Regions from separate parts of the Homo sapiens genome. Here region 2 is linked to region 1. Evidence: fine-mapped expression QTL. A gene starts in region 1. The other region holds a variant in brackets. All regions are shown on one strand. Distances are from middle to middle.

Evidence for each region.
Region 2: its variant is fine-mapped to the expression of MAGEL2 in lung (TOPMed, PIP above 0.99).

The regions. Positions count from the first base shown.
Region 1 is chr15:23,646,236-23,649,150 of GRCh38, forward strand. It overlaps MAGEL2 (MAGE family member L2), which reads right to left and starts at 1,632. Exons shown (of 1, transcript NM_019066.5): 1 at 1-1,632. The coding sequence starts at 1,507. RefSeq lists an enhancer at 75-919.
Region 2 is chr15:23,854,040-23,856,954 of GRCh38, forward strand. No RefSeq gene overlaps it. Among named protein-coding and RNA genes, the nearest start is that of PWRN4, 120 kb to the right of the region's middle. The variant C/A (reference allele first, on the strand shown) is at 1,353.

The DNA of each region.
Region 1 (2,915 bases):
CAGGTCGGATGGGCGGCGGCGCCTGGCGGATCAGCGGCGGGGCCTGGCGGATCACAGGTGGAGCCTGGCGGATCACAGGTGGGGCCTGGCGGATCACAGGTGGGGCCTGGCGGATCACAGCGGGGGCCTGGCGGATCACGGGTGGGGCCTGGCGGATCACGGGTGGGGCCTGGCGGATCACCGGTGGGGCCTGGCGGATCAGCGGTGGGGCCTGTCGCACCGGTGGTGGGCCAGGGCGGATGGGTGGTGGGCCAGGGCGGATGGGCGGGGGCCCCTGGCGCATGGGCGGCGGCACCTGCCAGGTAACGGCTGGTGCCTGCCAGGTGACCTGCGTGGTCTGCCAAGTCAGGGGAGTGGCCTGCCAGCCTTGCTGCGTGGCCTGCCATCCTGGCGAGGTCGCCTGCCAGCCCGGGGGTGTGGCTAGCTGCGCTGGGGGTGCCTGCGGGCCCTGGGGAACCTGCGGAGGAGCCCTTATAACTTGAGACTGGATTTGCAGGATCAGAGGCTGAGCCTGCGGGGCCCAAGAAGCCATCGGCTGTGCAGGTGGGGCCATCGGCTGTGCAGGTGGGGCCGCCGGCTGTGCCATCGGTGCTCCTGAAGCTGGAGGCTGGGTCATCGGAGCTCTCGCACCTGGAGGATGAATCATCAGGACTCCTGGACCTGGAGGCTTGGCCATCGGTGCTCCTGAAGGCTGAGGCTGGGTCATCATGGCTGCTGGAGGCGGCTGGACCATCGGTGCTCCCGGAGCAGCAGGCTGGACCATCAGGACTCCCGGAGTCAGAGGCTGGGCCATCAGGACTCCCGGAGCTGGAGGCTGGGCCATCGGTGTACCCGGAGGGGGAGGATGAGCCATCGGTGTCCCCGGAGGTGGAGGATGAGCCATCGGTGTCCCCGGAGGGGGAGGATGAGCCATCGGTGTCCCCGGAGGGGGAGGATGAGCCATCGGGGTCCCCGGAGGAGGAGGATGCACCATCGGGGTCCCCGGAGGAGGAGGATGGGCCATCGGGGTCCCCGGAGGAGGAGGATGGGCCATTGGGGTCCCCGGAGGGGGAGGGTGGGACATTGGGGTCCCCGGAGGAGGAGGATGGGCCATGGGAGCTCCGGGAGCTGAAGGATGCACCATCAGGACTCCCGGGGTCGGAGGCTGGGCCATCGGGGCTCCCGGAGGTGGAGGATGCACCATCAGGACCCCGGGAGTCGGAGGCTTACCCATCGGGCCCCCCAGCGGGGGAGCCGGGACTATCGGGCCCCCTAGGGCAGGAGGCTGGGTCATCGGAACCACCGGGGCGGGCAGCTGGCCCTGTGGGGCCTCCCAGGCAGGCTGAGGTGCCTGCCAAGCGGCCAATGAAGCCTGCAAGTCAATTGGAGGTGGATCCCAAGGGACTGGCGGAGCCCGGGAGGAAGCGGGCGGGGCCCGCATCAGAACCGTAGGGCGGCTATAGACAGGCGGCTTCGGGGCCTCCGCCGGAGGACTCGAGTCACCCAGATTCTTACTTAGCTGCGACATGTCCCTTTGCTGACAGCTGGTGGGTCTTTTCCTCGGACAGCTGCTGGGCCTTTTCCTCCAGAGAGAAGAGAATGCCTACGTGGCTGTTCAGAGGCTCCCTCCCTGCTGAATGCTGAATAGGAAGTGAGTGCTGCTCGCTCCGCAGCTTTCCGCAGTAAGGAGGAGGGGGGAAGGGGGCTCAATCCCGCCCCTTCCCCGCCCCCGACCACCACAAGTGGATATTGCATAGGGGCGTCTACCGGAGTCCTGGCTGACACAGGATCCCTTCTCACTCTGTCCAGTCCCCAAATGCAGACCAGTCAGACTCCACATGGATGACTTTTCACAGGGGAGTGACAGGAACCCATCCATGTTTTAGAAAAATCACTGTACTGCAGTGTGGAGTGGGAGCAGACCACTGGAAACATGGAAGGTATCCAAGACGGCGGGGGGAGATGGTGTGGTCTGGGCTAAGATGTGAGGCGGAGAATGAAAAAAGCGCATTTACATAAGAGAGTTCCAGGAGTTATAGCAGACAGATACCTGTATTATAATTGAATAAAGGAGTCAAAGACATGGAAAAGGCACACAAGTCCCTGCCTGGAGAAAGTGGGAAGTTGCAGGGACTGTTACTCTCTTAGGGTCCCAGGAGAGGCACACGGGAAGAGAGGCTGATGAGTATTGGCAGACACAGGGCATTTGCGGTGCTGTGGGACTGCCAAGGAGAGATACCCTGTAGGCACTCCTGTATGATGTCTTGGGAGTCCTGCTTGGCTATTCCTCATGAAAATAGAGTTGTGGGAGGGAATGTGGTTGCACTGGGTCTTGAAGAACACAGGCATGTTAGAGACACATGGAGAAAAGGGACAGCAGCGAGTAGAGAGAGAGGAAAAGAAGTCACGGAACTGAGACATGCCACACATCAGTGGAAGACAGCATTTTTAGTATGGGAAAACTGCCTGTGGAATGGCTCGGATGCAGGAACAGAGTAGGTTTCTCAGTATTTTTCATCTGCAGAATGGGAAAGAAATTTAAAAAATGAAAACCAAATAACGCACCTGAAGATAACAAAATGGGTATATAAATAGATCAAAAATTGATATATTTGGATATATAGGAAAAACAGGCAAAGAATAAAAAAATTTCTGGGGAAACTTCTCGTGACAAAAATCAGTTTAAATATGAGACAAATCAAGTATTAACAGATAAAGCAGATGACAATAGTATTATTGGGCAATGCTATACAACTTTATGGTGAGAGGAAGTGATAATCTCAGTAATTGAAAAGCTTTCTGGAAATATACAAAGCACTAAATATCAAGGATGTTTCGTTTAAATAGGCTGTTGGCAGCCTACGGCAGGAGTCCAGAGTGACAAAACGTGCCACCAGGGGGCAGATGAGGACGATGAAGGGTACACCCCACTCCTT
Region 2 (2,915 bases), 210 kb after region 1:
TGTTGGGGGTCAGGGTATCTGTGTGTATGTGTGGGGGGTGGTGTGTGTGTGTCTCTGTGTGTGTGTGTGTTTTTGCTGGATTGTTTCTCTGCTTAAGCCCCTAAGTAATTTTTTGTTTCTGTTTCATATTTTGGTTTATTATTTTTTGCTAATTCATTTGCTTGTTGGCTTTCTTTTAAGAAAACTACATAAAATTGAATACTCTAAGGGTAAACACAGTGAATTTTCACAAGGTGAACACGCTTGTGTATCCAACACCCAGATCCAGAAAAACAGCATCCCCAGCAGCCCAGAGGCCCCTTGTGTTCTCTCCTTGAAGTCCCTCCCCAGATCATGCCCTGTCCTGCCATAAAGTATATGGATGTGTGCCACTAGGAGAGACAGACTGTAGTAGCCAAAGACAAAGAGGAGTCAGTCGCTAGCTATTAAGTGAATACCCCAATCAAGCAAACCTGGAAGAGATATGGGATTCACAGAGGGTAAAAAATGCACCCAGATAACCATGGAAAGGAAGGGCAGCTGCTTTTCATAAGGGAGTTATTTAAAGGTGGGTGACAAGAAGATTCTGAAAGGCTGAATAAACAGCTCAGCAGAAAAAAAAAATCGGTATGTGCACCTGGTCATCTCCATTCCTCTGTGACCACCAGAGGCCCCCATTGGCTGGGACATGGACCTGGGGTGAGGGGAGGAGGGAGGGCCTGTGCTGGGGGCATCACACTCTAGTCTAGTCTAGTATAATCCAGGACGTGCTAATTGCATCTGTTGAGGAAGTCTGTGGCTTTCAGAGCCGCTTTCCTGCAGACTCCCTGCCCCTTCAGCAAAGCTCACACCAGGCATCCAGAAAAGAGTTGCCAAGGGGATCAGAGAAGGAGAGTACTCTCTCCCTCCACCACTCCCACCCCTTCAAATCTTGCTGGGCCCCTGCCCTTGGTGCAGGGAGGACTCAAATAGGTGAAGGTTTGCAGTCAGGAACAAACATGAAGCTGGGATTTCACAAGAAGTGAATGATGAGCTCAAAAGCGGGAGTATGACTTCATTCAAGGACAGCAGAGCCTTGAGAGTGCAGGAAAAAGAGGCAGAAAAGTCCTGGCTAGTGTTTTCTTGAAGCCCAGGAGCATGCAGAGATGTGGGCAGGAGAGGGTCTGCTGGCAGTCAAGGGTTGCTGTATGGTCAACTCAGATGAGCAGTGACACGTGTCCCTTAGATTCCACAACATGAAGGAAAGCAGAGGACTAGGCAAGAGTCTTTGGTTGGAGGGATAGGAACGGAAACCCCTTAAAAGCAGGCTCGAAAGTGAAGGCTCTGTGACCACAGGAAGAGACACTTTATCTCCCTTTACACCACGCTCTCTC[C/A]TGAGGAGGGTCAGAGGACACTGTTTCCAATTCAGACTTCTGTAAGAAACTTAACAAACCACAAATAAACATTCTCGTGCTCTATTCCTAACCCCCAGAAATCCTGAGGGAGCACGTGGTAACCTCTGACATATTTCAGTGACTCTGAAAGACATACCATCCCAGGCTCTATTCCTGCCCTGGCCAGGAGCCCAGAGAAGGCTTTGTGGATGGATAGGTCCAGCTGGATGCCTGAATAGGAGTGAGACCCTAGGGTGGACATTTCTATGTTTGGGTAGGACAGAGACATAAGAGAACTAATGATAATGTGACCCTAAAACTCATATTCATTAAATATTTGGTCAAGAGTTGTTTGGTGAGGGTGAACATAAAACTATTCTGTATTGGAAAAATATATGCATCTCCATTTTTACTGTGAAATATGGGGAATGTACTTCTCATGTTTTTCTGCATATACTCCTGATATATGATCTGAAAAGTCTGTAACATTTTAATTGTTTCAAAATATTTATTTCACAAATGTTCCAATGTTTATAACTTGTGACACCTCCAACTCCCTGCAGATAAAGGTAACAAAACTTTTTTCATTTATCTGTCATTTAAAATTTTCCTACAGTGCTTTATATAAGGAAGTCTTAAAGCATAAAAATACATTCACAATCATAAAAAACAATTAAAGGTTTGGAAAATAAAATGATTTACTTACTGTCCATTAACGTTGTTTACTTCCAGAATGTCAGCGTCCTGGTGACCCCGACCTCTGGCGGATGTCCTTGGTGTTCACAGGGCAGCAATGTGTGCTTGGGTACATTGTTGTAGAAGGACAACATGGAAATACAACTTGCCAGTGAACATGTTTAATCCTCTCCTATGTTGTGGTAGTTTTTCAAATAATTTGTCCATCTCCCCTGGCTTATGACTTTTTCTCTTACTGATGCATAGAGGTCTCTTATGTAATCTAGTTATAAAAGTTGCTGATATCTCCACCAAGATGGCTTTCCTTTCCTTTTCACTATTTTTTTACGCTACCTTTTGCTGATTTTATACCACTGGGATTTACTTTAGAAAGGATTTAAAATAGAGATTTAGCTGTCATTTTTTCAAATGTTAGCCAAATATTGCAACACAATATTTTCAATGTTTCAACTTTATCCTATTTAGAAGATTCCAAATTGCTTGAATAACTTTTGATGTACACTTGGATGAAACACAAATCTAATTTTTTATCTTATTATTCATATTTATAGAATCTTCAGAAGTAATCAACTAGAAAATCTGTAAATCAGAATCTTTGTAGGTACCAGCAGTCAAAAGTTCTTCCAATGAAACCACTTTTGGCAGATTTTTTCTCATAATGTAATAACAGCTAAATTCAGGATAAATTTTGAGGGAATATTTTTCTAATTGACCATTCTTGTCATTTAAAGTCTTTTTTTCTGATGCAAAATTTTAGCCATTTTATATCATTCATTTAAGTAAACCTTTCTTAGGCTGCCCTATCTGACTTATTTATGGAGATTCCAACATGGCAGGTCCCCAAGAAAAGTTTTATTTCCCCAAGAC